Regions from separate parts of the Homo sapiens genome. Here regions 1, 2 and 3 are each linked to region 4. Evidence: fine-mapped expression QTL. A gene starts in region 4. Each other region holds a variant in brackets. All regions are shown on one strand. Distances are between the middles of the regions.

Region 1 (8,146 bases), 36 kb after region 4:
GATATAATAATATGGGTAAATATTAAAGCATGCTGGGTGAAAAAAGCCTTACGCAAAATAATATGGTATTTTCCTATTTAAAGTTCTAGAATAGGCAGAACTAATCTGCAATGAAGAAAAATCAAAATAGTGATCTGTGCAGATGTGGGCGTACAAGTAGGAGTTGACAGAGAGCAGGCATGAGGGAATGTTCCTCTACATCTTCAAAGGAGTTTGGGTTACACATGTCAATGTACTTTTCAAAACTTACTGAATGGTACACTTACAAGTGTTCATTTTATTGAATATAAATTTTGCCTTAAAAGAAAGACATCATAAATGAATACTGAAGTTTAGTTAATGATATGCATGCTGAAGTGTTAAGGGTGAATTATACTGTTATCTGAAAAGTACTTTGAAATGCATTAAAAATAAAATAGATTAGTAGATGGATAGAATAATAGATAAATGGATATACGTATGATAAAAGAAATAGAATAAGATATTAGTTGTACAATCTAGATAGGGATATATGGGTTTTGACTGTAGCATTCTTTCAACTTCTCTGTATGCTTGAACATTTTTATAATAAAAAGTGAGGTAAAAACAAAAACACATGATCACATTGGCTACAACTGAGCAACTGTTGTACAAGCCTGTCAGGACCGTTGAGGAGTTTTCTGAAATCTACTTCAGAACCTAACACCTGGGTGGTGGAAGGGAAAACATTTATCTGTTGGCTTCTTTCTCCTTGTGTCAGTGCTTAAAGCCCTCTTGCAGGTGCCCTGCACCTTAGAGAATTCCCAGGGTAGGGAGCTAGAGTACACAGCATGCATGGGCTGATGTGGCATGCTTCAGATTGCACCTGTGTGTAGCTGGTCAAAGCCTATGCAGAACCAAGAGTCAAACAAGAGGATGGAAAGTGCTCCAGAAGTATTGTGTTAGTTACTCATTGCTGCTTAACAGATTACCCTCCAAACTTAGTGTCTTACAACAAACGAACAGCTATTCTCCACAATTCCTGTGGGTCAGGAATTCAGGAGTCACTTAGCTGGCTGGTTCTAGCTCAGGGTCTGCCATGACATTATATTCAATATTTCAAGCCAAGGCTGCATTCATCGGAAAACTTGATTGGGGCTGAAAGATCCACTTGCAAGGTGGTGCATTACATGGCCCTTGGCAGGAGGCTCCAGTGTCCCTGCCACATGGGCCTCACAGTAGGTCTGCTGAGTGTCCTTGTAACATGGCACATGGCATCCCCCAGAGTGAGTGATTATGGGGGGAGGAAAAAGTCACAATGTCTTTTATGACCTGGTTTTGGAAATCACCCGCTGTCACTTCCACCACCTTTTATTATTTAGAAGTGAATCACTAGGTACATTTCACACTCAAGGAGAAGGGAATTAGGCTTCCTTTTTTTTTTTTTTTTGAGACAGAGTCTCGCTCTGTTGCCCAGGCTGGAGTGCAGTGGCACAATCTTGGCTCACTGCAACCTCCGCCTCCCGGGTTCAAGCAATTCTTCTGCCTCAGCCTCCCGAGTAGCTGGGACTACAGGCGTGCGCCACCACGCCCAGCTAATTTTTGTATTTTTAGTAGAGACGGGGTTTCACCATATTGGCCAGGCTGGTCTTGAACTCCTGACCTCGTGATCCACCCGCCTCGGCCTCCCAGAATGCTAGGATTACAGGTGTGAGCTACCGCTTCCAGCCTAGCTTCACTTTTTGAAGGAAGGAACATCAAAGAAGTTGAGAACATGTTTGGAAACCACAACAGATTTCCATTACGTTTCACCTTTGCACTTCTTAGGACTTTTGTGCTCTGCATTAAGTCCAGTCTGCCCAGAGTCTTCTTCTAGAGAGTGGCTAGCTCCAAATCCTACAAACACTAAATACAGGAAGGTGAATAGAACAAGTTACATTCCCTGCTGATGCAACAGGTTCCAAATCCATAAATAGTACTTGTCATCTCCATTTTCCACCATTTGCTCTAGATTTCCCTTAACCTTAGCCAATTATTTGGCTGATGTAGGTTGCTTTCCTGATGGCTGACTCAAAACTTTACCTCTGAGGGGTCTGAGCCTTTAGTTGACCTTGTAAAGTCATGATCACTGCGATTGCCCATCCACCATCACCAGTCATGGAATCATCAATAGATGTCCCTGTGAATCTTCTATGTCCTAGACACAGTCCTTCCTGCACACATAATGTAACAGCAGCCTTAGCTCTTCATGGTAATCAGAGTCGATTACTCTTTTCAGCATAGGAACACCTCTTTTTTCTTGCTGGTCTACTGCCATGAGGAACCCAAAATTCAAAAACAATAATCACACTTTAAGGTGAATGGAAGCGCTATCATTTCTGCTAGTGCGTACATTCACCCACCTGAAAGTGGGACAATTAATTCAGCAGAACCTAGGCTCATTTGATGGGAAATGCACAACACTTTTAAGTGGATCATGAGAAGTGATGGTGAGGGGGGCAATCCTACTTCTACCTCATGTTTCCTGGACCAATGTTGCTAGACACTGGGAACATAACACCATGTATCAGCTATTGTTTTAGCACATATATACAATATTTTGGAGGACAGTGTCATTACCAACAGGTCGTTCTACCTGAGCCTGAGCTGACACTAAAAATCCTTTTCAAAAACTTCTGCTTTCAATCATGAAGGAGTAAGCCAGCCTGCAATTACATTTTGAAAGTAAGCAACTAGAAAACTAAACAAAATGTAGGAAAAAAACTATTTTAAGACATTGGGTAAGAGTCCAACGAGATTGTGATCCCCATGAAAAGGAAACGAAAGGGGCAAAATACACCCTGGTGTAGGCTTTCTGCCTGCAGGTAGCTCCAAGATTGTGATTCAGGGAGATGAAATTATACAAAGTGTTGTCATTGAATTGAACAGAGATTATAGTTCAAGAAGACCAAGGTAGCTATGATTTATAAGGCAGAGCACCTGTCTAAGTCCATTTTCTGTTGTTATAACCAAATACCTGAGACTACTTAGTTTATCATGAAGAGAAATCTATTTCTCACAGTTCTGAAGGCTGAAAGTCCAAGGTTGAGGGGGTGCATCTGGAGGGCCTTCCTATTGGTAGGCAATCTCTGCAGAGTCCCGAGGTGGTGTAGGGCATAGAGAAGGAGCTAAGCATGCTAGCTTAGCTCCTCACGAAGCCACTCATGTCCCACACTCGTGACTTTATCTCATTCTAATGACATCCAAAGGTGCCGCCTCTCAAATACTATAGTTGAATTCCTCCCCCACCGCCCCCCGCTTAATATTGTTACAGTGGGGATTAAGTTTCAACATGAGTTTCAGAGGGGACAAACACTCAAACCATA[G/A]CATTACTTGAGAGGAGAGCTCTCAAGAAATCTTTGGCTGGGTGCAGTGGCTCACACCTGTAATCCCAGCACTTTGGGAGGCTGAGGTGGGTAGATCGCTTGAGCCCAGGAATTTGAGACCAGCCTGGGTAACATGGCGACATCCTGTCTCTACAAAAAATACAAAAAATTAGCTGGGTGTGGTGGTGCACACCTGTGGTCCCAGCTACTTGGGAGGTTGAGGGGGAGGATCCCCTGAGCCTGGGGAGGCAGAGGTTGCAGTGAACCATGATGGTGCCACTGCACTCCAGCCTGGGCAACGGTGAGACTCTTGATTCTTTGCCTGAACACCAAACTAGTCAGGAATAGGATGAAATCCCATAGGACTGGACAAGAACAACTTTCAAGGAAAGAATAGTTCTGTGTAAGCTGTGAGACAAATAACCAATAACCAGAGTTCACACAGAGCTGGGAATCATTTGAGTTCCCTCTAGTCAGAGTAAACAGACCTTGGTGAATACACACGACATTCAGTAAAAATCCTGGAAAGGCAACAGTTTGAAGTGGGGCTAAATTATTTCTCAAATAAATGCTACTCTAGAACACGCTAAAAGAGCCTAGAACATACCTCAAAAGGATCAAACTAATCTGCAAGTAAAAGTCCAACAGAAAAGATTCAACACTCTTCAAAGAAATACAGAATTTCAGCACCCAACAATGTAAACTTTACAATATCTAGAATCTAATCTGAAATTAATAGACATATGAAGAAAAAGAAAATATGAAGAACAGTCAAGAGAAAAATTGGTCACAAGACTCAGACCCAGAAACAACAGAGACTATGGAATTATCAGACAAGAAGGTTAATATAGCTATTGGAAATATGTTGGCTAGGCCTGGTGGTTCACACCTGTAATACCAGCTCTCTGGGAGGCTGAGGCGGGTGGATTGCTTGAGCCCAGGAGCTCAAGACCATCCTGGGCAATGTGAAAATCCATCTCTACACAAAATACAAAAAATTATTCATGTGTGGTGGTGCACACCTGTATCCCAGCTACTTGGGAGGCTATGATGGGAGGATCGCCTGAGCTGAGGAGGTTGAGGCTGTAGTGAGCTGAGATTGTGCCACTCACTCCAGCCTGGGTGACAGAGTGAGACACTGTCTCAAAAAAAAAAAAAGAAAGAAAGAAAGAAATATGTTTCTTATATAAAGAGATGAAAGGACGTGAAAGTTATAAGAAATAGAAGATTTATAAAGGACTAAACTCAAGCTTTTAGTGATAAAAATACAACATCCAAAATTGAAAATACACTGGATAGATATAATAGCAGATTAGACACTGCAGAAGAAAAGAACAGTGAACATAATGACACAGGAAAAGAAGCTACCCAAAGTGAAGCACAGAGAAAAGATGGAGAAACAGCACATCAGTGAGCTGGAGAACAATATCATGTGTGCATCTGAAGTAAAAGAAGGAAAGGAAAAAGGAGGGAGAAAAATGTTTGAAGAATTAATAGTAAAAGAAATTTCTAAATTCTTCACACCTGTTAGGATTTTCACGTTGTTTTGTTTCACTTTTGAGGAAAAAGAGACAGGGTCTTGCTCTGTCACCCAAGCTGGAATGCAGTGGCACTCATAGCTCACTGCAGCCTCAAACTCCTGGGCTGGCTTCAGTGATTCTTCCACCTCAGCCTCTGGGGTAGCTGGGACTACAGGCATGCACCGCCATGCCAGCTAAATTCTTTTATTTTAATTTTTTTTTGTAGGGATACATTCTTTCTATGTTGTCCAGGCTGGTCTCAAACTCCTGGCCTCAAATGATTCCCCCGCCTTGGCCTCCCAAAGTGCTTGGATTACCACGCCCCACTGTTTTCTTTAAAAAGGAAAATAACAGTTGTTGGCAAGAATGTAGAGAAATTGGAACTCTTGTGCATTGCTGGTGGGAATATAAAATTGTGCAGCTGCAATGGAAAGCAGTTTGGTGGTTCTTCAAAAAGTTAAACAGAGAATTACCATATGATTTAGCAATTCCACTCCTAAGTATATGCCCCCAAAGAATTAAAAGCAGAGACTCAAATAGATACTTGTACACCAACGTCCACGGAAGTGTTAATTTGCAAAAGCCAAAAGGCATAAACAATTCAAATGTCAAAACAGACGAATGGATGTATACACATACAATGGAATATTATTCATCTTTTTAAAGACAAGAAATTTGGGTATCTCCTACATCATCCTTTCAAGGATGAACCTTGAAAACATTATGCTAACTAAACTAACCACAAAAGGAAAAATATTGTATGATTCCATTAATATGAAGTACTTACAACAAACAAATTCATGGAGACAGAAAGTAAAATAGAGGTTTCCAGGGTCTGGGGGAATAGTAGATTGGGAAGTTATTGTTTAATGAGAACAGAGTTTCAGTTTAGGGTGATAAAAAAAATTCTGGAGATGGATGGTGGGAATGGTTGCATGACAGTGAGAATATACTTAGTGCCACTCAACTGTACACTTAAAATGGCAAATTTTATGTTCTGTATATTTTACCACAATAAAATTAAATCTCTTAAAAGTTAGTTACAGCCGGGCTCAGTGGCTCACGCCTGTAATCCTAGCACTTTGGGAGGCTGAGGTGGGCGGATCACGAGGTCAGGAGATCGAGACCATCCTGGCTAACACGGTGAAACCCCGTCTCTACTAAAACTACAAAAAATTAGCCAGGTGTGGTGGTGGGCACCTTTAGTCCCAGCTACTCAGGAGGCTGAGGCAGAAGAATAGCTTGAACTGGGAGGTGGAGGCTGCAGTGAACTGAGTTTGTGCCACTACATTCCAGCCTGGGCGACAGAGCAAGGCTCTTTCTCAAAAAAAAAAAAAAGTTAGTTACTACTGTTCAAGAATAAATTGTGCCTTATTTGCCAATATACGTCATTTGAGGAGGATGACAAAAATTGAAGAGCTTGATGGAATTCAGTTTTGAAAAGTGAGATCTATCTGTGTTTCCTACAAACTTTATTTTTTTTGAGACAGGGTCTCTTTCTGTCACCCAGGCTGGAGTGCAGTGGCACAATCACAGCTCATTGCAGCCTTAGTCTCCTGGGCTCAGGTGATTCTCCCACCTCAGCCTCCCGAGTAGCTGGGACTACAGGTGTGTGCCACCATGCCTGGCTCTTTTAAAATTTGTTGTCAGGGTCTCTCCATGTTACCTAGGTGGTATTGAACTCCTGAGCTCGAGCAATCCTATCTGCCTTGGCCTCCAAAAATGTTGGGATTACAGGCGTGAGCCACAGCACCCGGCCCTACAAACTTTTAAGAAGATAAATGCTTGTAGAAATTTAATTACATTTTGCTTCTATGAATTCCTGATGAAAACTTTCTGAAATCTGTCATAAATACATAATCAAAAGAAAAAATAAATATCTTTAATATTTTCACATCCCTGAGCTTTCTGACTCCTTCCTTAGTGCTATGGCAAGCTCCAGTCCAGGCAAGTTGCAGCTTCTGGACTTTATTTATTATAGGCCACTATTTTGTCCAAGCCTCAAGAAATCACTCTTGCAGTGTATTGCTACAGGTATCCTTGCCAGGACACTGAGTTTTCTGATCAAGGAAGGGTGCTCCCAGGTCAATAAATTCACCATTATCCAGCTTTCTATTCCACTCACCCACCCTAGTGCAACATCCTCAAGATCCACTTTCACAAGCTTATCCAGGTTCCTGCCTGTATACATTACCCAGGTGAATGGTTTGGCTCTGTGTCCCCACCCAAATCTCATCTCGAATTGTAATCCCCATGTGCTGAGGGTGGGGCCTGTAATCCCCATGTGTTGAGGGAGGGAGGTGACTGGATTATGGGGGAGGTTTCCCCCATGCTGTTCTCGTGATAATGAGTGGGTTCTCACGAGATCTGATGATTTTATAAGCATCCAGCATTTCCCCTGCTTACACTTCTCACTCCCGCCACCCTGTGAAGGTCTTTGCTTCCTCTTTGCCTTCCACCATGATTGTAAGTTTCCTGAGGCCTCTGCAGCTATGCAGAACTGTGAGTCAGTTAAACCTCTTTCTTTTATAAATTACCCAGTCTTAGGTATTTCTTTATAGCAGTGTGAGAACAGTCTAATACCCCAGGTCCTTCAGTTTCTTTAGTAAACTATTTCCTACTGCAGCAGGGATACATTTCCCCACCTGCTTGAGCCAAAACCTGACTCCAGTTATCATGGAGTCAGTTAATTGGAGATGGAAGGAGACCTTGAGGAAGACAGACATCACTTTGCAAAGCAAGATTCAGGTGAGGTATTTTCAGGGTCTCCTGGCAAGATGAGGCTGATGTCCCCAGCAAGGAGAAGAAGGCTGACTTTGCTCTCCTAGAGGATGAAAATTAATCTAGTGACTCAATATTCTCAGACTTGTCTATCCTATCCCAGCTCTTAAGATTTTAAGCTTTTCCTATCAGGGTTCTAACTTTGAAATAGGAGATCTGTGAAGGCTTGGCGTTCTGTCTCCTCTATGACTTTGTCAACTGTTGTCTTAATCTTCAAGACAGTATTCCCTGTGCCTGCAGGAGATCAAATTCTTTTAACCATTGCTCTATTTCACCGTGGGCTTGAGTTGATAGTTGTCTAACATGACCCTGTCATTTTCTTATTTTGAGACTTTCAAAGCAGTTAACAAAAGCCAGTGAATTCCCCATTCCTTTACAATTATAATTGCCTCCATATTGTCCAAGGACCATAGTTACCACTTGACCCAGAGCCTCTCCCTTCCACCTGTACCTCATCCCAATCCACCACAGGTGAGAACCTTAATTGTGTTGCTGCTGGATCTGCACTTACCACTCAAGCTG
Region 2 (8,146 bases), 81 kb before region 4:
GGAACTAAGCCTTTATCTCTATTGCACTAAACTGAACTGAATCAGTCCAAAGATACAGGTTTCGGTACTGGGAGAAAGATGCTATCATCAAACAGTCATAGCTTTGTATATCTTCACTTAGGAATTTTGCCAAATTTCAGATCAAGTCATATTTATTGGATTTGGCTAGTACAACTTCTTGGAAATTACACACACTTTAAGCATTTATATTCCTGGTGAACAATTAGTTTTAATATACTTATTGGGCTGAGTTAATATGAAGTACTTACAGTTAATTCAAAGATCAGCTTTGTGGGGTGAGATTCATGTGATTATTCAGCCATACTGCCTGAGGAGCATACTCTGATACTTGTGGAGGGCATATCCTGATAAAGCAGCGATTTGAAGTATTGTGGGTTGCCTACTATTTATAGAACACTAGATATGAGGAGGCAGATATGAAGCCTTGACTCTTGTGGTCAGCCTGACTGGACAATAACACAGACAGCATCACTCTGTTGGTCTTGACTACTTAATTACACATATCTAGAAAAGTTTATTTTGAACAATTGCAAATAATGTTTACAATACAACAACTCTTTTTCTCTTTTTTTAGACTAAAAAATCATTTAGAAAAATAACACACATATAAACATACTCTCTCTGTATATAAGTTAAATGGTATAAACCATTATAAAGAAAAAGTGTAGGGTCCATACTCTCCCTGCCTGAGTCAGTTCTTTCTCTCCAGAGATCAATGCACACACGTTCACTTGTATAGCTTTTTTATTTTACAAAAACACAATCATACTCTACATATTCTACAACTTGCTTTTTTCACTCTCTCTCTATATACATAGATATTTTGTAATTTTTGTAGAGACAGGGTCTCACTACATTGCCCAGACTGGTCTGGAACTCCTGGGCTCAAGCCATCCTCCCTCCTCAGCCTCCCAAAGTGCTGGGATTACAGGCATGAGCCACCGCACCTGGCCTCAATCTATATTGCTGATGACTTAAATATCTGTGAAAGTCTTCTGAGGCATTAATATTACCTGCCAGAAATAAACTGATAATAAGTGAAGTTCCTTATATTGTTCCACAGCAAATTGGTAAAGCCTGTGATTAGTAGTTATTGAATGGATAACTACTTAAAAATTCATATAATGTAAAAAACATCCCCAAATTTTTTGAATCTATGCTAATGTAGTCATAGACTTTTAAGAAAAGCAGCAATTTAAAGTATTGTATTGTTACTTTAATCAAGCATCATTCAGTGTTTTATAACAGAAACATGGTGCAAAGATACAAGCACACATACATGTAAATATACACACATATATACATATAAATATCACATACAAAGATACAAATACACACACATATACATATACATGCATATGCATCACACATACACACACACACACACACACACACACACAAGCATCTGCATCCTGTCTGGCATAACTTTGCCCTTTTCTGCTCTGTTCACATCTTTTTGGCTACCGTACCTTTAGCTTGAATTCTAGCTTTTCTGTTGGTGAAGATGAAATGAAGTAACCTGAATCCTGAGTCAGTAGGGCCAAATTTGATAGGATGATTGGCTCCAGTACGGGCTCCTGATGAACAGGGCTGCCTGGGTCTTGGGCAGACCCCTGTATTTGAGGTCACACAGATATTTCCCGAACCATGTGCCCCAACCAAGGAAGACTGCTCTATGAGTTAACTGAAAGTGGACAATTAGGGAGCCTCATTTCCCAAAGTTATTAACCTCTCCCTTCTCTCTCTTTTTCACTGGAAACACTTTCCAAGGAAGCTTATAATAGGGTTTAGCTTTCTGGAAAATGAAACTTTTTTAAACCTTTCTTTCATGGAAACCCAAACTTTCTCAATGACTTTTACAAAAGGTTGTTTTTAGAGTTGCACTGGCTACACAGAAAAACTATTATTTTAATGTGCTACTTATTCTCAAGTATGTGTGTTTTGTGCATAAAATTGACTTATATACTAGCATATTATTCATATCATAATATGCTAGTATGTGAGATTTTTAAAAGCTTTTTGTCTTTGCAAAAATTTTCACTGCAAGATCCTTTAAAGCAATGGCTTTTCTACTGGTCTAAAGTACCAGTTTGCTGATCATTGCCTACCTGACAGGAGAGGAGAGAAAGAATTAATATAATGTCCATCCCTTTTCTTCATCCCCTGTAAGTTAATTAGTTTCTAAGTTTCTTGAATCTTCTTCCCAAATTTTTCTCTAATTCCCATTATGGCTTTAGTCTGGGTTCTTACACCCAAACTTAGAATTATAGCAATAACCTGCTAATTGCTCTCCTTAGAGTAGCTTATCGCTTTCACTTCAATCCAACCCGTGCATTAATTTCATACAGATCATCTTAAAGCACTGATATCATTATATCTCTTTCTTGTTCACACTCAAGGGCTGCCCAGTGTGGATGGCATTTAATCCCATCATAACATTCAAAGCCTTTTATCATCTACCTTTCTTATCAACTTCCGAGTTCTCTCCATGATATCACTTATAAAAACATTTTGCAAATGAGGTAGTAGGCAGAATAATGTTCTCCCTCCAAAAAAAGTCCACATACTAATCCTTGCAATGTTAAATATGGTACCTTATGTGGCAAAAAGAATGTTTCAGATGTGATTAAAGTTAAGAACCTTGGGATGGGAAGAGTCTCTGGAATTATCCTGGTAAGCCTCATGTAATCACATGAGTCCTTAAAAACAGAGAAGCTCTCCAGGTTGTAGAGAGAGGAGATGTGACTCTGAAAGAAAGGTCAGAGAGATGCAACGTTGCTAGCTTTGAAGATGAAGAAAGAGGCCACAAGCAAATAAATGGAAAAGGCAAGGAAATAAATTGTGCCCTAGAGTCTTCAGAAAGGAACACAGCCCTATCAACACCTTGACTGTAGTCCAGTGAGACTCGTGTTAGACTTCTAACCTACACAACTGTAAGAGAATACCTTTGTGTTGTTTTTTATTTTTTATTTTTTAATTAATTAATTATTTATTTGTTTTTATTATACTTCAAGTTTTAGGGTACATGTGCACAACGTGCAGTTTGTTACATATGTATACATGTGCCATGTTGTTGTGCTTTGTGTTGTTTTAAGCCATTAAATTTGTGGTAATTAGTTATAGCAGCAATAGAAAACTAACATATGGGTAAATCACTACATGTGTACATGCCCAGTGTTTCTATTTGCCAAACAATCCTCCCACCTCTAAGCCAGGCCCAGTAGTGGTTCCAGATATGTTCCCAGGCTGGCCTACTGCCCGAAATGCCCTCCTCATTCCCTTTCACCTACTTAAATATTCTCTGTCAGTCAAGTCCAGCTGAAGACCTATTTCTTCCAGATTACTCCCATCCCTTCCTTTGAGGGTATTGTCTGCACTCAATCACTGTTTTCCTACTTTGTCAATTGTTTAAAGTCTGTATGTCTTGCTTCCATAATTAGATTTCAGGCTATTGGAGGAACAGAGACCACATTTTACATTTTTTTGGGTACTTCGTAATAATTGGAAAAATTGCATACACACATATGATCCACCCTAAATAAGCAGTTTAATACTAGAACATTTTAAAATTTAAAAATTTAAAAATCAAATTATTGCCATTAGAAAAAGATCATTGAACTCATTGATGAAATTATAATGCAACTCAGTGAGGAAACAATCCTATTGTCAAATAACCTTCCCCAAGAAAACATCACTGCATAAAGAAAGTCATTTCTGTGCATATTTTAGTGGCAAGGTAAGCTGTAATAGAAATGAATGAGCTATCTCCAGTTGCAAAAGAGTTATATGTTACTACAGATAAACAGCAAGGTAACACTTTCTTACCAGCTCGGGAAAGAGATCAGCCTGCTTGCTAAGCAGAATGGACAGGTTTATTGTGAGGGCTTGAAAAGTAGGATAAACCCTGAGGGGTGCTGCACTCACAGTGCTTAGCTACTCCTTTGTTCACACCTTTATTACATTTAATTTTATTCCTTGGAATTGGAAAATTCAACCTTTGATAAGTTGCTACAATTGGCATCCTACTCGGTATTACATATCAGAAAATGATTTCAGTCCTTATGTTTTGCTGCAAAATAGGTATATATTTAGCACTGGAAAAATGATGAAAAGCATTCTTGAGCCTCTTAATCAAGGAAAGTAAGATGAACAATAATGTAAGCATGGAGTGAGACAAGGATGAGATTATTATTTGATGTTCTTATAATATTCTTAAGATTCTGATACATCCATCTGCTAATCCCTGTAGCTGCTTATTTGTAAGAGAACATTCATTATCAAGATCCTTTGGACTTTAATGATTTTGGTAATTATTGATTCCATTTGCATCCTCTTTTTAACCATGTGATTGCACTCCAGGACAGAGGAAAATTTGCAACAGGGTCTGAAATTGAGCAGAAAACGTTTATCTCTATATGAAACCGATAAGCAGGAGAGAGAATGCAGAGTGTGCTGCTAAGTAACAACTGGTCCATTGCTGGATATCTGCAGTGTAATTTGGTGATGAGATGCATGCCTCCTCCACAGTCATAGCCACTGTCTCCCATTTTCACTGCCTCTGTGTCTTAGTCCATTGGACACCTAAACAGCTCAGCCCAGATGGAGTCCCCAGAAAGAAAAAGTTTCATTTTCTGCTTCCCTAAAATGGGTGCCCAGGCTCTATTTCTCCTAAATTGTCTTCCACACATTTTTTCAGCTTGTCTGCTGGCCTTGCCTGGCTGCTTGCAATACGCTGGGAATTCTGCTGGGTATATTGGTTCCAATGACAAGAAATGTATTTCAT[C/T]CATCAAATGACAACATGTACATATACTGCCTGATGAACACTCAATACCAGACATCAGCACGAACTCTTGTTTGTTTCAATTTGTTTACACTGAAGACTGTTCAAGAGTCTCAGCTTGTAGTTGGTAATTGATACAAGTAGAAGATGGGACTTAGCTCTGGCATCAGAGACCTTTGGCTTGGTTTGGGTGTGGCACTGAAGGCCGCCTCCAAGTGCCTCCTAACTGGTGACTGGGTCACCTTCTCATTCTGGTCCTCTGTTTTGTGATTGTCAGCATCTTGTCAGGAGTCACTGACTTCTTCCTCCTTCTTCCCACAGCACCTTGTTTGTGCTTTTCCTACAGCATTTTGCCTTTGGGTTAATTTTGATTGTTTAGACGTGTGCCTCTATGATAACAAAAATTAAGCTCCTTGACAGTAGAGAATCTGTTACTTGTATTTGAATCTCCCTCAGGACATAGCAAAGTTCTGTGCACCTACTAGACAGACAATAAATATTTGCTGAGGATTTTTGAGTGAATAATGGCAACTGAATTGTTAACTTTCAGATTCCTATAGTATCAACTCATGGGATCTTCTTTTTTAACATTCATATGGTTTGGCTGTGTCCCCACCCAAATCTCATGGTGAAGTGTAACTTCCAAAATTCCCATGTGTCGTGGGAGGAACCCAGTGGTAGGTAATTGAATCATGGGGAGGTGATTGAATCATGGGGCAGGTAATTGAATCATGGGGCAGGTAATTGAATCATGGGGAGGTAATTGAATCATGGGGCAGGTAATTGAATCATGGGCAGATCTTTCTCGTGCTGTTCTTGCAATAGTGAATACATCTCATGAGATCTGATGGTTTTAAAAAGAGGAGTTCCCCTGCACAATCGCTCTCTCTTTGCTTGCTGCCATCCACATAAGATGTGACTTGCCTGTAATCCCAGCACTTTGGGAGGCCGAGGCAGGCAGATCATGAGGTCAAGAGATAGAGACCATCCTGGCCAACATGGTGAAACCTCATCTCTACTAAAAATACAGAAATTAGCTGGGCGTGGTGGCACGTGCCTATAATCCCAGCTACTCAGGAGGCTGAGGCAGGAGAATTGCTTGAACCCAGGAGGCGGAGTTTGCAGCAAGCCGACTCCAGCCTAGCAACAGAGCAAGACTCCATCTCAAAAAAAAAAAAAAAAGATGTGACTTGCTTCTCCTTGCCTTCTGCCATGATTGCGAGGCCTCCCCAGCTATGCGGAACTGCAAGTCCATTAAGCCTCTTTTTCTTCCCAGTCTTGGGATCTCTTTACAGCAGTGTGAAAATGGACTAATACACACATGCATAACTTCCCAATATTTGTCTTTACAAAGCCAATCGAGGTCTTGTTTCTTGACTTCTACTATCTTGTTAGCTTGAGGCCACTCATCAAAGGAATGTACACTATCCTAAGTGGTTATAGCAACCCCTAATTTCATCATGATGTGGAAGAGTTACCTGGTACCTGGTTACATAGAATCTTTACTGTATCCCTAATAAAATTATATGGAATATAATTTTTAAAATTCTACTTATTCATCGACTCTAATTCTCTTAATAAGTAATATATATCTGAGAATATACTAGAAACTTAAATGATCAAGCACATTCTAAGACACCTAGTAGTTGAGTAGAATCCATTGTCTATAGAAGTTTCTTGGTATCTTCAAACTCCAGGTCAACTGTAAAGAAACACTTATGAAACTGCCATCATCACAGTGAATAAGACCAAAAATGAAGGTAAACTTGTAACACAGAAGTTTATTAATTAGAATGCTCAAAAATATTAATGAGTTCAGACTAGCCTTTCTTTCCTTTTTTTCTCTTTGAAAATGATAATCAGATAATTTGTGTAGCATTTTACATAGATAAACTAAAAACCAATTCTAAAAGCTATACCTGTGGTCATTGGCTGATGAAACCAAACTGCTGGTTTTCATCACTGCAGGCTAAGGTGAAGGTGCAATGTGCCCTTATCCACATTGGGCCACCATCAGTTACAATCGGTGTGCCCTTATCCGCACTGGGCCACCATCTTCCTACTTGTTACAGAAAAACCTGCTCTGTAAAGACAGTTAAGGGTAAGGAAATGAGAAATATGGCAACCACATGCTGAGGACATCTCAGTCTCTTCCTGTCCGTTAATCCAGTCAGAGTACAGTCGCACTAAAATGTATCCCAGGCATCCTGGATTATTTATGCCTATGATACCAAATTATCAGAAGTTCTATAAGACCATGTCACACTAAACCAAATAAAAGAAATAGCCAAGGGTAAAAGTAACTGAGAACATTTGGAAAATGAAATGAAGTGGATAATAAAACTGTAAAGATTGTATTTATGAATTTAATTCTATAGACATATAATATGTTAAAGAAAAAGTACTAGATCTCTGATTACTATGTGTTTCTGACATTTTATAGACCTTGAGATCAGATATGAGTACTCAATCGATTCAGCACTGCGTATCGCCACTGCAATTAAGACTAAATGAAGTGAAAACGCTTTTTAACAAGTATGTCATACAAAGTGCTATGATTCATCTACTTACAATGGAATTAGAATTCTGGAAATGTGTCGCCAGATTTTTTTTTGCCATTAGAGAGGATTAAATTGTACAAAATAAGTGCATTGTCTGTTATTTATGACTCAGATCTAAAATTTTTCTTGGTAAATGAATAAAACCTTTATATAACCATTAATCTGATCTCTGGTATTTCAATAGTAAAAAGGAAAGTGTTGACATTTTACAATTCATTGCTGAAAGAAACCTATAAAATGGAGTGCCATCATCTCATTGTTTCTTGATACAGACCGGTCACAATTTCTATACTAAGTTTTAAGTATGCTGCAGTTTTAACTTTCAAGCACCATCGTATAATTGAATTTATTTACATACTTTTCAGATCATATTGGAACCTGGACACATCCCATATATTTTATTTAAAGATTATGTTGAATAATATAATCTATGTTGATGGGAGGTTGGCTCTGGGTTAGAATCACACTGTCACTTACTAGCTGAGTGACCTTAGGCAGGTTACTTAACCTCTCACCAAGCCTCAATTTCCTCATGGGCAAAATAATATTGGTGTCAAAGCGTTTTCTTTTAACTTTTTATTTTGAAATAATTGTAGATTCATAAGAAGTTGCAAGAACAGTATAGTGAGGTACCAGGTATCCACCACCTAGCTTACCCCAATGGTGACATCTTCCATAACTACAGTTCACTATCAAAACCAGGAAATTGATTGGCACAATGCAATTAACTAGACTCAGTTCATACTCAAATTTCACCAGTTTTTGCACACACTCTTCTTTCGGG
Region 3 (8,000 bases), 130 kb after region 4:
AGAAGCTGTAGCCTTCAGGAGTGGACAGGGAGGGAGCCAAAGCAGTAAGTCCCTTCATGACATTGTCCTCCCTTTCATCAAGCTCCTGCTGGTTTCCACATCTGGAAACCAGAGGGAAAAGGAATCTGTTGATTGGGGTTTTCCAGGGTGCTGAGCAGGGTGGAGAGTGGGTCTGGAGGGGCAAATGAAAAATATCCTGAGCATATCCCAAAGGCTCTTCGTAACAGGCAATAAGAGATGTTCAGTGTCACTGGAGCTACCTCGGTATAGATAAACTAAAATTGTGATGGGCAGTTTGATGATTGTCTAAAATAATGGCATTTTAAAATGGCCACTTAATTCACTGTTTACAGTTCCTGTTTGATGACTAATGATATTAAAATATGTCCAGTTATCTTGGTTGGAGACCTCGAACTTATTGCTGTAAACATATCCTTCTCTTCAGTTCATTCTGTCCCCTGACTGCTGATACACTTTTTTTATCACTTCCTCTGTCCCCTGCCTGCTGTCCTTCTCCCTATCCTGAACTCAAAGCCCAAGGGTGGAATGGGGGAGAAAGACCTGAGCCTCATAAGAGACTCAGGACCCTGTCTTATCAGTTTATTCCATTTTTTTTCTCAGTTTTTACTTTCCCACTTTCTATAACCTTCTCTCCACAGACTCAAAAAGTGAAAAAAAAAAGGATTTTGCTATGTGCTTGTAAGGTTATATTTTCAATAAAGAATGTGTACATTTAGAACATATTTAAAAATATTAAAATGTGTCCAGGAATTTATTTTTAAAGATAGGTGTTACCTTTACCCTACAGTGGAAGTCTTGGTAGTTATGTTTTAGTAGAAAACACCAATTTTTTTTTTTTTTGAGATGAGGTCTCACTCTGTCACCAGGCTGGAGTGCAATGGTGTGATCTCAGCTAACTGCAACCTCCGCCTCCCAGGCTGAAGCTATCCTCCTGCCTCAGCCTCCCGAGTAGCTGGGACTGCAGGTGGTGCCACCACCCTCGGCTAATTTTTTGGTATTTTCTGTAGAGATGGGGTCTCGCCACGTTACCCAGGCTGGTCTCAAACTCCTGAGCTCAAGTTATCCACCTGCCTTGGCCCCCAAAGTGCTGGGATTACAGGCGTGAACCACCATGCTTGGCCCAAAACACTACTTTTCAACAAGTTGTAGTATATATTAGTTTAAAATTAGTTGTTCATGGCTCCTTCCCTAGTCTCTTTTTTTCTTCCATCAGCAGATAATAGTCAACTCTTATTTAGGATTTTTCTGTTTTACTCTTTACCATTGATTTCTTTCATCCCCTCCTTTCCCCCTCCTTAGGGAGAATGCACAGAAAAGTAGTTCCTGAAGTAGGATTAGCCTACCCTGCTGCAAATTTGCTTTAAGAAGCTTGTGATTGCTGTAATAAAAATCAAGGAACTATTTTGCTTTTGGATAATCCATCAATGAAAATAAGAATATTTCATGGTTGTCTCTTGTTTCCAAGGCGATTTAAGTTTTAGTGCATGGTTTGTACACTTTGCAACAAGGTAAACAGGATAGCTATAATAATATTAGTTGTTATTTAAGTTCTTGCTATTTGCTGAGCACTTTATTTACATTGTTTCACCAAATCTGCATGATTTTCCCTGTTCTGCTATGAGCTACACGTTATTATTTTCACTTTAGAAAAGAGGAAAATGGGGCTGCAAGAGGTGGGATAAATTTCCCAAGGCGAGGACTGAAGTTTGAAGGCAAGAGGGTCCGAATGGTCTCTCACCCCATGAGCCCATCCCTTAAGTGTGTTGCACACTCAGGCCTGTGGCCACACAGCCTGAAGCCCTAAGTGTGGCTGGTCCTGGAACTGCAGTTATTTAGAGCAGAAGGATGATAAACAGGCAGAGGGAAGGGGAGCAGGGAGCCTCGTGAGTGAGATTTTTCCTTTCACATATCCACTGTCACCCCTTCTATTAACTTGAACTAGAGTGTTTTGAAGTTGGAGAAGAATTAAAAAATGCACACAAAATGTGACAAGCTCTGGTACAACATGTTGTCATTATTTTCACTGAACACAGTGCCTGACACTTTGTAAGTGCTGTACAAATAGTAGCTGCTCTTATTTTTATGGTTGCTATTATTACTCTTTGGGTAATCAAAATGAGATTTTGGTTATTTAGATTTAGATATTTTTGAAACATGTAATTTTTTTAATGGAAAATATATCCGACACTTTCAAGTACATTGATTTGGCCAATAGATGACTAACTGGATTTATAGACAGATAGGTTATCCCAAAGCCTTGCAAACTGCTGCCACAGACATGGGTTTTGTCTGCTTCACTTGGATTTCCAGAGATGACATAGTAGAATCTTGCCAGTCCAAGGCCCAAGCTGGGGTTTGGGTTCCATGACTGTTGAGCCTGCACTCAGCAGAATTTACAGGTCAAGGCCTTGGTGTTATCCTGAGGTGGTTCCCTGTGGAATTCTTTGGTATAAACTTGTAGCCTGAAGCCTCAGTCTCTAATTGCTCTTAGAAGCATTTTGCATGAGCTCGGTTGGTTTTCATATTGCTGCGTTTTGGGTGCTGTCAGACACAGTATATTGTTGGGAAAATGATACACTGTACATCTAAAACCTGTTTTCTCTCAAATAGGAAGATGTAATGATTAGCTCCAGGGACCCAGTTGCCTGTGTGAGTCATAAAACTGAGATAAGACCCTAAATTTTGGAAATTTTTATAGGAAGATGCATGAGAGATTTTAAAGCAACCTATCACCCAGGGTACCATATGAAGAAAAAGATGCCGTTCTGACGTCAGAACCACAAATAGCATTAAAGCTCCGGAACTGGAAGGTGATGACAAGGGTTCAGGATAGCCAGAGCTTTTGTCCACTCCAGGGTTCCTGCTGAGGGAGCTTCAAACGAGAGCAATGACCAAATGGAGAGACAAATACATTTATGAAGGCCAGTGATGACCCAACAATCCACACCTCAGCCACTAGTGGTCCTGGGGCCTTGTGGGACATACTCATTTTCAGCTTAAAAAATGGATTGACAGTCTTGGCCGAGAAATGGGGTCTCTGCAAGGAAACAAAAGCCACCAATAGTGTTTGGAGCTGAGCCTTAGTTGGAACTAGAAGTCTCTTTCCCCCACAGTCGAGAGTGTGATGCTCAAAAGAAGGATGGCCAAATAAAGACTGAAGGGAGCAAGGATCAGCTTAGTCTGTGCCTGTGCAAGCATTGGGTGGATACAACCTTTCATCCCAGATCCATCTGTCATGTGCAGCCTCAGACACACACATGCATGCACGTGCACACACCTGCTCT[A/G]GGAAGTGTTGCTGGGACAGAACACCTAGGCGGGTAAGTTTTCAGGAGACTTCCTGCTCTCCCCCTCCCACATCTATAATGCTGGGTCTGTGAAGCCAGTTTCAGGACCCCTCCTCACCCAGTAGACTCTTGCAGGTCCTCCTGTCCTTGTGGTTGCTGCCCTGCCCTTCTTCTCAGTCACATGTGGAGCCCAGGGTGAGGTCTCTGACACCCAGGCTGTTCTCTGCAGTGATCTGGCCCATTAGGACTGTCAAACCCTGGGACTGGCTGACTGACTGTGGAGCCTTCATCCCTTGGGAGGAACAGGTGAGGGCAAGGGAGTGTGATCCACTTAGCCTGATCTCCCTACGGGCAGTGGTAGAGGGGAGTTTTGCAGACTTTGTTGAGATTTTCAAGAAGGGACAAGGAGGTGGGGCAAAAGGTTGGAATCTCTTATTATATCAAAGGTGAGAACTTTGAATCCTAAAACACAACCAGGAAATGCTTTGGATGAACGTGAAAGGCAGTGTTCACTTTTATATGCAGACTATATGACAAACATTAGTTTGTAAGGCACCTAGTTGTTATTGGGGAAAGACTTTCATATAGAAACATGTTATATGTGGCATTTAGGTTTCTAGGTTAGCACAAAAAAGTTTTAGCCCATTATGTAGCTGGAATATATTTACACTGTTGAAACAATATTGCTGTGAAAGAAACATAAAATTGAATTAGAACTCCCATTTCTTTTGTATGGGTGTCCTTTGGGAGAAGCGGGTTTAATTAGAGGCTGATGAAGCAGATGAGGGAGAATTCGTGAAGTTCCTTTAGGGAGTAGTTATCTTTAGTGATCCATTGTGTGCTGGGGAGCTGAGGGGCTCAGGTGGTGTTATTAACCTCACATTGCTAGGGAGGAAGTGGAGGCACAGGCGGCTCAAGTAGCTTGACCAAGGTCACACAGCTAGGGACTCAGAGCTACATCTGCTCAACCGTCCTGTTTTCACTGTCCTATTTTATCTCCAGGTAAAAAGGGGTGTGTCGAGCTTCTTTGTGGCACTTATTTTCTGTTTCATCTACAGATAGCTCAGTTGGTATCTTTTAACTAGAACTGTTTTTAAAAATAAATCATAAAACCATTATATACCAAAAATATGACAACTTAATATCAATCACACTTTTCTAATTGTCTTACTACTTATTCTTTTACTGTTTGTTGGTATCCAAACAGTAACTCCACTCATTGCAGTAGGTTGCTATGCCTCTTAAGTCTCTTTTAATCTGTAGCTTCCCCTTCCAGTCTCTCTTTTCTATATACTTGCAGTTTGTTTGTTGAGGAACCTGGGTTGTTTGTCCTGTAGATTTTCCCCCAATCTAAAGTTTACTTATTGCATTCCCATGATGCATCTAACATGTTTCCCTGCCTTCTGTGTTTGCTAGAAACCGTAGTTTGATTTAGAGGTTTGATTGGATTATACTAAGTTTTGTAGGGTGGAGGTTGTCTCTTTTCTGTGATGCTAACAGAAAATCGGAGTATGCGAAGTTTTGTAGGATGTTTGGTTGTCTCTTTTCTGTGATGCTAACTCTTATTAACGATCATTGCTTATATCCATTAGTCATTAGAGGTTGTAAAATGGTGATATGCTATCATTTTGTCTTCATGTATTCATTGGAATGCCTCAAGAAACTTTTTTCAAGAGTTGACTCCCTAGCATTCTCCTAAGGTGACAGGAGTTCTTTGCCTGTTAATTTGCTTAGTATCATTATGAATCGTTATGGGTTTATGTGTATTTGATGTGTTGATGCATTGCAGTTATTAAACCTATTTGTGCTTAGACTGCCCAGTTTTGACTGAAGGGAGCTTATTCAAGTTGGTGAGGCACTTTTCTTGAAGAAACAGTTCTAGCTAAGTTGAGTGTGTCCTTATTCGAAACTCATTGTTTGTAGATGGGGACTCCACTGACCACCCTGGGGGTGGAGGCACATCCTGGTGTCCACCTAGCCCTCTCTAGTCATGCCAAGGCCCCAAACATCATGGAGCTTTTGAAAGGAGGCATTTCACAAGGCCCCCTTGCAGCTCCTTTGCTATAATTTTTGTGGCTGCAAAAGGGTAACCTGGTGTGAAGGAAAGGTGCTCACTGACTCCAGCTTGAATTCCAGCTCTGCCCTGTACAAACTTTGTGACTTTGGAGAAGCTGCATGATTTCTCCTTGCACGGTAGGGATAATGCATCTCTAAAAGGATTGGTACAACCTAGAGGTACAGTCCCTGTAAACCCGCTAGGTTCTCAAGTACGTGTGTGTGTATTTTCTGCCTTATACTAAGGCGCTACTCTAGGTTTGGAGTGATAAAAAAAATGAATATGATGGCCGGGCATGGTGGCTCATGCCTGTAAACCCAGCACTTTGGGAGGCTGAGGCGGGTGGATCACGAGGTCAGGAGTTCGAGACTATCCTGACCAACATGGTGAAACCCCATCTCTCCTAAAAATACAAAAATTAGCTGGGCGTGGTGGCTTGCACCTGTAATCCCAGTTACTCAGGAGGCTGAGACAGGAGGATTACTTGAATCTGGGAGGCAGCCTGGGTGACAGAGTGGAGACTCCATCTCAAAAAACAGAATATGACATAGTTCCACGTTTCGGGAGCTTCCATTGTTTGTGCCCTATATTGTCGTCTTCTGTGGGAAGGCAATGTGTTGACTGAGTGCCGGCTGGCTGGCAGGAGTTACGGATTGGGAATTGGGTTCTTCCAGGTGAGACACTCCTACTGGGAGAGCATGAAGAACTGTGAGCCTGAGGGGTAAGTCAGCTGAAGACTGTAAGGAAAAGCCAAGGAGCAGACAACTGTACGGCCACAGGCAGGGGCCAGAGGCAGAATTAAGGTCAGGCTTTCTAAGCCTGGAGCTCAAAGCTGCCAGACATAAATAGGATCCAAGAGAACTGATTAAGAAGGACTCTAAAGTCTGGTGGAGTTGATGGCTGAGAATACTCTTGGGTGTTATGGTTCAGAGACTGCCAGATAAGGCTTGCTTTGGGTTGAAGCTCTAAAGCAGCATTACCCAATAGAAATAAAATGTGACCCAGATGTAACCTGCACATGTAATTGTAAAATTTTTTATGAATCACATTTTTAAAAGTCAAAATAAGCAGGTAAATTAATTTTAGTACATGTTCACTTAACCAGTATATTAAAAATATTATTTTGACATGTACTCAATATAAAATTTGTTAATGAGATAGTTTACATTCTTTCTTTTTTTATTTTATTATTATTATACTTTAAGTTTTAGGGTACATGTGCACAATGTGCAGGTTAGTTACATACGTATACATGTGCCATGCTGGTGTGCTGCACCCATTAACTCGTCATTTAGCATTAGGTATATCTCCTAATGCTATCCCTCCCCCCTCCCCCCACCCATTCTTTCTTTTTTTTTGGAACTAAGTTCTTAAAGTCTGGAATGTATTTTACAATTACACTGCATCTCAGTAGGGACTACCCACATCTCAAGTGCATAATGACCACACAAGTAGCTACCATGTTGGAAAAACGGAGGAAGAAAGTGAAATTTACATCAAGGTTCTAAGTCAAGCATTTACAATTTGACATTGTAACTTGACAAGCATAGCACAGTAGTGGTGTTGGTTTTTTGTCTCTTAGTTTGTAGCTCCATTTTTGCTTCCCCATTTTCTCCTTTGTATTATATGAGGCTAGAAGTCTGCAAGCTGCATCTTCCACATTACTTTTCCAGATGGTTTCCTCTTAGATTCCACAGGTAGGAGATACTGGCAGGAAATTGGAATGTGAGAGAAAGGAACAGGCGATAGCAGTGGCCCCTGCTAAGTGGCAGTGGTGCTGCCTGAGTGGTGATGATGCCAGCCCCCTCCGCTGATCAGCATGAGTGTGGGCTGGCGGGTGTCAGCCCAGGGTGTTAACAGTTTATTGTCTCTGGATGTTACTGCTTTATCTTTTTAGTTTCTCCAGCTCTACCTCCATCTTCCCTTTGTTCATCCATACCTTCTAACACCTTTGTAAACAGTTCACTACAGCGGTATCTCTTCTTAATATATATAAAATGGTTCTTGCTTTTCTCACTGGACACTTGGGATCTGATGTCAGAGAACTATGCTGTACTGTGGTCTTGTATGTACCATCTGTTGGTTCTATGGCTTAGCTTCTTTAATTTTCAACTTCTTCTGTCTAAGGATAGAAAAATAAGGATAGTGAAAGTTCTGACCTCATAGAGTTACTGCAAGGATGATATAATCAATATATGTACCATTGCTAGCTTTGAATGTAACACCCAGTAAATATTGCTTATTATTGATAATAATATACAAGCCGATTTTTGAAGGCTCATAATTTAACATTTTTTATTATGGAAAAGTTCAAATGTATACAAATGTAGTGAGAATAGGATAGTGAAACCTCACGTGTACATCCCCCAGTTTCAACAGTAACAAATTAAGACTATTCTTTTATTTATACCTCCTACTTTCCCCCATACTTTGGGATTCTTTTAAAGCAAATCTAAAACATCCTCTTATTTCAGCTGTAACTATTTCAGTATGTAACTCTGAAAGAGAAGGACTGTTTAGAAAACACAACCACAATACTATTAGCAAATCCCTAAATTAAAATAATTTGTTAATATTATCAAATACAAGACAGTGTTGAAGTTTCCCTATCTCATAAACATTTTCATTTAAAGATTTTT
Region 4 (8,146 bases):
GTGGTTAGCTAATAAGAAAATGAAAAAAGCTCCCTTAATTTTTCCTTGAAAAAATTTTTAAACTAACACAAAGATGCCAATGAATGAGTATTTTGCTTACATCCATTCACTCCATCCAACTCTCATTCAAATGCTCATTGTGCACCTGCTAAGGTCAGGTGCGTGCTTTCTGCCAAGCATTCCAAGAGGAACGTCACATAGTCTTTGCCCTCAGGAAGCGTACGGTCTGGTTGGGAAAGAGATGCTTCCAACAATAATTCTGATACCTGTGTGATATGGTTTGGCTGTGTCCCCACCCAAATCTCATCCTGAATCCTACTCCCATAATTCCCACGTGTTGTGGGATGGAACTGGTGAGAGATAATTGAATCACGAGCGCGGTTTCTCCCATACTGTTCTTGTGCTAGTGAATAAATCTCACGAGATCTGATGGTTTTATAAACGAGAAGCCCTTTTCGCTTGACCCTCATTATAGCTCATGCCGCAGCCAGGTAAGAAGTGCCTTTCGCCTTCCGCCTTCCGCCATGACTGTTAGGCCTCCCTAGCCACGTGGAACTTTAAGTCCATTAAACGTCTTTCTTTTATAAATTGCCCAGTCTTGGGTATGTCTTTATCAGCAGCGCGAAAACAGATTACTAACACACTGTGGTAAAGGTGAAATCAGTGCTCACTCCTTCGGGTGAATTCCGTCACATAATCTCCACTGGGGAAGGGGTGGGCATGGGCAGCTCCTGGGAGCTGATGTCTTAGGGGCCCTAACACAAAAGTTCATGCAGTTCAGCATCCCTTCCCCTCCCATGCCCCACAGGGCACAAACGCATTGTTGTCCATCACCAAAACACATTACCCTTAGTACTCGACTCTAATGAAGTTCCAGTTCCTCAGTTGTATAACGAGGCTTCCAAGCTCCTATTTTAAAAGAAAGTTTCTTGAAGCTAAATAAAAGCACTGCTAACATGAAATTAACAGTGGAAATTTTTGAGTGTAATTTCAGGGTGAAAAAAACTGAAAAGACAAATGTAGATTTTAGATATTTCAAGGAAGGAGAGAGAGTAGTGTTGCTGGTACCATGCCTCTGCACTTGCTATAGCTGAGTTTCATTTGAGTATCCATTATTTGGAAGGAGTTCTTAAATCTAAGCCTGTGGAAGACAATAAATTCACATTAATTATCTCTCCATTTGACTCAATTTCTGAAGAAGTTCTATCCTTCTGATGAACTATCAGATTAAATCCCAGATTCCTCAGTATGATGTCCCTGAATACCAATATAAAGAATAAAGGAAGAGATCAAAACCTGGATGAATAATCTGTATAAACATGGGCATATACACAAGGTATGACTATAATATTGAGACTCATCCTATAAAGCACCTACAAAAGTTGATTGTATTATTTTATACTTATGCTTGTGCACATAAAAAATATTTGGCAGGCTAAAGGCCAAAGAACCAGGCACTGTTCTCAAAAGGACATAGCAGATTAACTACACCTCTATTTGTCCTTCTATACTCAAGGCTACTTACTGTAGTTGGGTTGACCAGGCAGAGTTTAAATCAATATATGTTGGTTGAGCCTGGATCTTAGATGAGAAATTCACACTAACGTGAAATTCACACAGACATATGTGGAAACACTAAAAACATTTTCTTTTACTTCATCCACCAGTGACTTTAATGAAAGCAGAGCATAATAATTAATACAAGTAATTAGAGTTGACAACTGAAGTGTCAAGAAAACCACAGTTCATCTGTTATCCGTCCATCTCTGTTGAAATATTAGTTTACTGCCATATATTAATCTATTTATAAAGAGATCCAGACAATTAGAAAAATTAGTCTGGAATCACCAGGCTGAAGGCTTAGCTGAAGTTAAAAGACAAGTAAAAATGCCTCCAAACTGTAAAACCTGAGTTGGGGAATAAATGGTAAAATGTGTAAAAATTTAGAAAAAGGTTATATGTGGACTGTAAAAAATACACTGGACTCACAGGTAATTAAGGGGTGAATCAGAGTTGTTTCCTAAATGGCATAAGCCAAACTCTTAGATATTTCTACCATTAGCTAAAAGGCAGAGAAGCACTCTCTCTCTCTATTAATGCACTTTTAAAAATGAAAATTGTGAAGTGTTCTGCCCTTAAAGTGGACCTTTATTTCAGGTCTGCATTACTTTGCTTAATAGATATGGTCCTAAAGATTAAGGTGGTGATCCATTTTATCTTGTAAAAATGCATAATTTAATCTGAGTTATAGGAATTTAAAGCTGCCCTACTTTGAAGGCCTTTGTGACTCAAAGATTTTTTTAATTTAATTTTTAAATTGAGAATTACCTGGCTTGGGCTTTTGGTCTTTTTATAATACGTATTGCTGTCTACTTTTTTTTTTATTCTTGGCTGCCTCAAGCTATTCTTGCCTCCAAAAGGTGTCAGCATATGAATAAAAACAGCAGAAAATAATTACCCTAATTAGGTCAATGTATTAAGCTGTTTCTACAACTGTTTCTCTTAAACACCTTATCTTTGTAGTCTTGGCTCATTAGAAATTCGACTAGTGGTAAGTATTTATTTTTTTCCTTCAAGGGGGTTTTTGCTTTGCTAAGCCTCGGGCATTTGGTTCGTGCAAGAAATCACAGAAACTGCTCCAGCGGACTCCGAAAGGAGCGGAAAATTCTTTTGTTTGGGGGCCATGAGGGGTGGGGGAGGGGTGGGGATTCTGGTGTAAGCTTTTGGCTTGCATTCGCTTTCTCCCTCCGAAAGTGGGCGACATCAAGCAAGTCCCAGTTACAGAAAGAACCCACTGCAGGGCGTCCAGTCACTTGCCCAGTGAAAAGACTGTAATCAGACAACTTTAATAAAGGGAGAGCAGGAGAGTGGTGACGAATTTCCACATTCCGAACAAGCTTGTCGAAAGAGGAGTGCAGGGAAGGAGCAAGAATGAGGCACTGGAAGACGGTGAGCGGGGCCTTGCCACAGAATCCCGGGCCCACCTGCTTTCTCACAGTCGCGACAGCCGGCCCGGAGAAGGGCAGCCCAGCGAAGGGCACGCCCCGCGCGGGTGCCAGGGAGGCCGGCAGGGGCGTCCGCGGTCGCTGCTCACCTGCGCTCCCCGCTGCCCGGCCCAGCCCGCCTCGCCACCGAGTCTGGAAGCCCACACTCACCCCTTTACCCGGGAAACGCGGCCGGAGCCGGCGGCGGGTCGGGAGTCCGAGATGGTAGATCCCCCTCCAGGCGCCTCGCTGACATTTTGTCCCGGACGGAAAACCTCCGCGCGTGCCCCTTAAAGACACAGCGCTGCATTCACACGTCTGCGGGGAAAGGGGGGCCGTCACGTGTGGCCTTCGCCCGAAAGCGGTAGGGGAGTCGCTCTGAAACCGCCAAGGATCGCGAGCGACAGATTTGTGTTGGCCAGGGTTTTAAGATGACGCAATAGCTGAGTGTGGTTGAAATGTAACTATTGTTTTACAACTTTGCATTAACCTTCCAAGACCTGAATTCCCGGGCCTGAGTCTCAGAGCGCGGTTTGCATCTTTGCAGGCTGTAGGCGCATGATGTCACAAGTTATTGGAAGAAATCCCTCCAACCTAGGTTGGGACAGATGAAGGCGGCGCTTATTGGTGTTCACCAAAACACCAGCATGGTGTACCAGCTTTGGCTAGATGATGCTCAGGTAACGAACAACCCCTGCAACTCAGTGGCTTAAAGGTCCATTTCTCAAGCGAATTACTGTGGCTGCAGGGAGCTTTGGCAGTACTCCACCAGTTTTCTTCACTCCAGGCTGAAAGGTCAACTTTTCTGGGCCATGCTCCCTGCTGGGCTGGTAAACCAACTTTGAGGGAGAAGGGGGAAGTCCAGATATGTAGTGTTTGCTATTTCTATGATGTAAATGCTCCCACAATGGCCGATTTCAAGCTACAAACAGTCCAACAAGTGGCTTGCCAAGTTCCTGGAAATTTAACAATTAGCTCCTGTACATGACTGGCACAAGCTGCTTTCCAAACTCACATTCCGCATGCCTCAGTTCTGCTCACTTTCTATTGGTCAAAACTTGCTGTCAGTGGGTGGGGAAGTGTACCCCTCTCTTAAGGAAGCCTTGCAAGTCTTGTGACAATGAAACAGGAGAGTTCCCTGATTTCCTCCCGGCCCCCGCCCTCCCACAGCCCTTTGCAGGACGTGCAACAGGGTTGTGGCTCGTGTGTTCGGTCTCTGCCTGCTGAAACCCCTTATGGGAGGTGGAGCATGCAGACGGACGGGTGCAGGAGCCAGGGTGCAAAAGCTGGGGCGCTGGGCTTCCAGCCCCACGGCAGTGTCCAGGGGCAGGATCCCGTGATTCCCGGAGCCCAAATGGGCGTGTGTTACAGTGTGCTCTTTTAGCCTTACCATCAGCTGACGGCTTAAGTGTTAACCAGCTCAATAGACCCTCTGCCTTTTTGCAAGCGCAGAGGGTCAGTGTGACAGTTTCTGTATCTCAGCTCTTGTCTCACCTCCCAGAAGAATCAGGTCACACATGGACTTGAAGGATGGTGAGTGCCGGGGTGGGGGCGGGGGTAGAGGAGTTGGGGGAAGGTTGGGGGTGTTTATTAGGTGGTAGGGGTGGCACTCAGTAGGATGGATGGGGAGCTGGAAAGGGGGTGGAGTAGGGAGATGATCTTCCCCTGGAGTTTAACCGTCCAGCGGTGGATTCTCTAACTGTCCCCAGCTGAACTCCACCCAATATTCCTTCTCTTTTCTCTTTATCTGCGGCTCTTCTGCTCTTCTGCTCTTCTGTTCATCTGCTCATCTTTTGCTGCTGGAGCCTGGTGTCTGGAGTTTATACGGGTACAGGATAGGGGGTCATGGAGGGCCAAAAGGTAACTTTTGGGCACAAGAACGGGAATGCCTCTCTTCATTTAGGGCCATGGGTTTCCAGGCTTGAGGGTGGGGCCTTTGCCAGGGAACGGCCTTATTCTACCCAGTAGTTCCCTGTCTACTGTCCCTATCAACAATAAGTGAGCTGAATAATATCCTTAAAAGAAGAACAAGAAATAACTGGGTACAATAATACAATCCACCATTCCAATAATGGTTTTGGAGGAAGAAACTGGTTGGGTATCTTCAAAGGCAGAGGTCCCCAACCCCGGGCCATGAACCAGTACCCTTTGTACCCTGTTAGGAACCTGGTGGCACAGCAGGAGTTGAGTAAGGGGCAAGCAAATGAGGGAAGCTTCATCTGTATTTACATCCGCTCCCCATGACTAGCATTGCCGCCTGAGCTCCACCTCCTGTCACATCAGCTGGGGCATTAGATTCTCATAGGAGCACAATTGTGAACTGTGCACATTCAAGGGATCTAGGTTGTGTGCCCCTTGTGAGAATCTAATGCCTGATGATCTGTCACTATCTCCTGTCACCCCCAGACGGGCCTGTCTAATTGCAGGAAAACAAACTCAGGGCTCCCACTGATTCTACATTACGGTGAGTTGTATAACTATTTCATTATATATTACAATGTAATAATAATAGAAATAAAGTGCACAATAAATATGATGCGCTTGAATCATCCCAAACCTATTCCCCACCCCTGTCCATGGAAAAATTGTCTTCCACGAAACCAGTCCCTGGTGCCAAAAAGGTTGGGGATTGCTGTTCAAAGGGATAATTTTGCAATGTGAAGGCCAACTATTAGGTTACTACTTTTCTTCTGGCCCAAAGGACACTTACAGCTACGGACATCTGATAAAAAGAAAAGTAATGAGTACACTGTTGGTGGGAATGTATAGCCATACACCCATTATGGAAAACAGTATGGCGGCTTCTCAGAAAACTAAAGATAGAACTATCATATGATCCATCAATTCCACCACTGGTTATTTATCCAAAGGAAAGGAAATCAGTGTATCAAAGGGATTCTTGTACTCCCGTTTATAGCCACACTATTCACAATAGCCAAGATACAAAATCAACCAAAGTCTATCAACAGATCAGTAAAGAAAATATGATATATATACACAATGGAACACTATTCAGCCATAAAAAAGAATGAAATCCTGTCATTTGCAGCAACATGCAGGGAACTAGAGGCCATCTTGTTAAGTGAAATAAATCAGACACAGAAAGGCAAAAATCACATGTTCACACTCATATGTGGGAGCTAAAGAAGTTGATCTCATGGAGGTAGAGAGCAGAAGGGTGTAGAGGTGGGGGAGTGAAGACAGGTTGGTGAATGGGTACAAGCAAACAGATAAGATGGAATAAGTTCTAGTTTTTGATAACACGGAAGGGTGACTGTATTTCCAAAGAGAAGATTTTTTTCTTTTTTTCTTTTTTTTGAGACGGAGTCTTGCTCTGTCGCCCAGGCTGGAGTGCAGTGGCACGATCTCGGCTCACTGCAAGCTCCGCCTCCCGGGAGCTTGTGTGGAGCTAGTGTTTTTATTCATGCCATTCTCCTGCCTCAGCCTTCTGAGTAGCTGGGACTAAGGGAACTACAGGCGCCCGCCACCACACCCATTAATTTTTTTGTATTTTTAGTAGAGACGGGGTTTCACTGTGTTAGCCAGTATGGTCTCGATCTCCTGACCTTGTGATACACCCGCCTCAACCTCCCAAAGTGCTGGGATTACAGGCGTGAGCCACCGCACCCAGCCGAAGAGAAGATTTTTTTTCTATGAGTTTGACTTTAATTTCTAAGATTCCACATATATATGAGATCATGCAGTATTTGTCTTTCTGTGTCTGGCTTATTTCACTTAGCATACTCTTCTCTAAGACATCCATGTTGTTGCAAATGGTAAGAGTTCCTTTTTCTTTAAGGCTGAATAATATCCGTGTGTGTGTGTGTGTGTATGTGTGAATACACACCACAGTTTCTTTTTTTATTCATCAGTTGATGGACACTTAGATTGTTACCATATCTTTTGGCTTCTGTAAATAATGCTGCAATTAACATGGGACTGCAGATACTTCTTGGAGATAGTATTTTTATTTCTTTTGGAAATATACCCAATAGTAGTATTAGTGGATCATATGGTAGTTCTATTTTTAATTTTTTGAGGAACCTCTCTATACTATTTTCAATAATGGCTGCACCAATTGACATTTCCACCAATAGGGTACAAGCATCCCCATTTCTCTAATCTTCACCAATACTTGCTGTCTTTTGACTTTTTGATAATAGTCATCCTAACAGGTGTGAGGTGATGTCATTTTGACTTGCAATTTCTCTGCTAATTAGTGATGTCGAGTAGAAGAGAAGATTTAAAATGTTCCCAATACAAAGAAATGATAAATGTTCAAGGTGATGGGTATCCTGATAACCCTGACGATCATTACACATTGTATGCATGCATCAAAATATCCCATGCACCCCATAAATACATACAAATATTTCGTATCAATAAAAAAATGAAAAAGAAAAGTAACTAGTATAAATGGCCAGGTGCAGTGGCTCACGCCTGTAATCCCAGCATTTTGGGAGGCCCAGGCGAGTGGATCACCTGAGGTCAGGAGTTCAAGACCAGCCTGACCAACATGGTGAAACCCCATCTCTACTAGAAAAATACAAAAATTAGCCGGGTGTGGTGGTGGGTCCCTATAAGCCCAGCTACCTGGGAGCCTGAGGCGGGAGAATTGCTTGAACCCGGAGGCGGAGGTTGCAGCGAGCCGAGATCGTGCAACTGCACTCCAGACTGGGCGACAGAGTGAGACTCTGTCTGAAAAATAATAATAAAATAAAATAAATAAATAAAAAAGAAAAGTAACTAGTATAAACAAATCAGGTTAAAGTCATCTCTAATTCATGTTTCAATATTTGAACAATTTTTTACAGTTTATTGTATCTGGTAATTCTTTTAAGAAGAAGCTTTATTGCTTTGAGTGTCTAAAAGAATCCATTTAACTTTAAACTGACCACGTAATGAGATACATGATATTTTCATTAGTTCATAGAGGAGTTTTTAGTAAGTGCTGGTTATGGGCAAAGCACCATCTTAAGCCTAAGCAGGAGTCTGGAGACTATTCCTGCCCTCAAGAGGATTACACTCCAGTATGACAGTAAGACATATGCAACTCTAAGAAGAAAGTGAAAAATTATATAAGAGGAAATATTCAAGTGCCATAATAAATTGAGAATGGCTACATATTTTTGAAAGTGGCAGCATTTAATCAAGGCTTGAAA

Alleles and levels. Alleles are on the strand shown, and positions count from the first base shown. SD is a standard deviation of normalised expression in the study named. Not every link is listed here.
In carriers of allele G in region 3, the expression in thyroid of the gene that starts at base 3,330 in region 4 tends to be higher than with A alone (small effect, 0.22 SD a copy in GTEx).

The links. PIP is the estimated chance that this variant, and not a neighbour inherited with it, causes the effect. A credible set is the group of variants that fine-mapping cannot tell apart.
Region 1: its variant is the best candidate, but not a certain one, in a credible set for the expression of ZBED3 in lung (TOPMed, PIP 0.81).
Region 2: its variant is the best candidate, but not a certain one, in a credible set for the expression of ZBED3 in monocytes (Fairfax 2014, PIP 0.62).
Region 3: its variant is the best candidate, but not a certain one, in a credible set for the expression of ZBED3 in thyroid (GTEx, PIP 0.86).

The regions. Positions count from the first base shown.
Region 1 is chr5:77,120,118-77,128,263 of GRCh38, forward strand. The region is part of intron 2 of ZBED3-AS1 (ZBED3 antisense RNA 1); the gene reads left to right. It overlaps LOC124901008 (a long non-coding RNA gene), which reads right to left. Exons shown (of 3, transcript XR_007058827.1): 3 at 7,591-7,667. It also overlaps a transcript of PDE8B not described here. Among named protein-coding and RNA genes, the nearest start is that of ZBED3, 37 kb to the left of the region's middle. The variant G/A (reference allele first, on the strand shown) is at 3,324.
Region 2 is chr5:77,003,070-77,011,215 of GRCh38, forward strand. No RefSeq gene overlaps it. Among named protein-coding and RNA genes, the nearest start is that of AGGF1, 23 kb to the right of the region's middle. The variant C/T (reference allele first, on the strand shown) is at 4,805.
Region 3 is chr5:77,216,694-77,224,693 of GRCh38, forward strand. All of the region lies in intron 1 of PDE8B (phosphodiesterase 8B), which reads left to right. Among named protein-coding and RNA genes, the nearest start is that of PDE8B, 10 kb to the left of the region's middle. The variant A/G (reference allele first, on the strand shown) is at 3,306.
Region 4 is chr5:77,083,956-77,092,101 of GRCh38, forward strand. It overlaps ZBED3 (zinc finger BED-type containing 3), which reads right to left and starts at 3,330. Exons shown (of 3, transcript NM_032367.4): 1 at 3,156-3,330. It overlaps ZBED3-AS1 (ZBED3 antisense RNA 1), which reads left to right and starts at 2,760. Exons shown (of 3, transcript NR_182763.1): 1 at 2,760-3,664. It also overlaps a transcript of PDE8B not described here. RefSeq lists enhancers at 2,988-3,589, 3,590-4,192, 4,193-4,793 and a silencer at 3,002-3,171.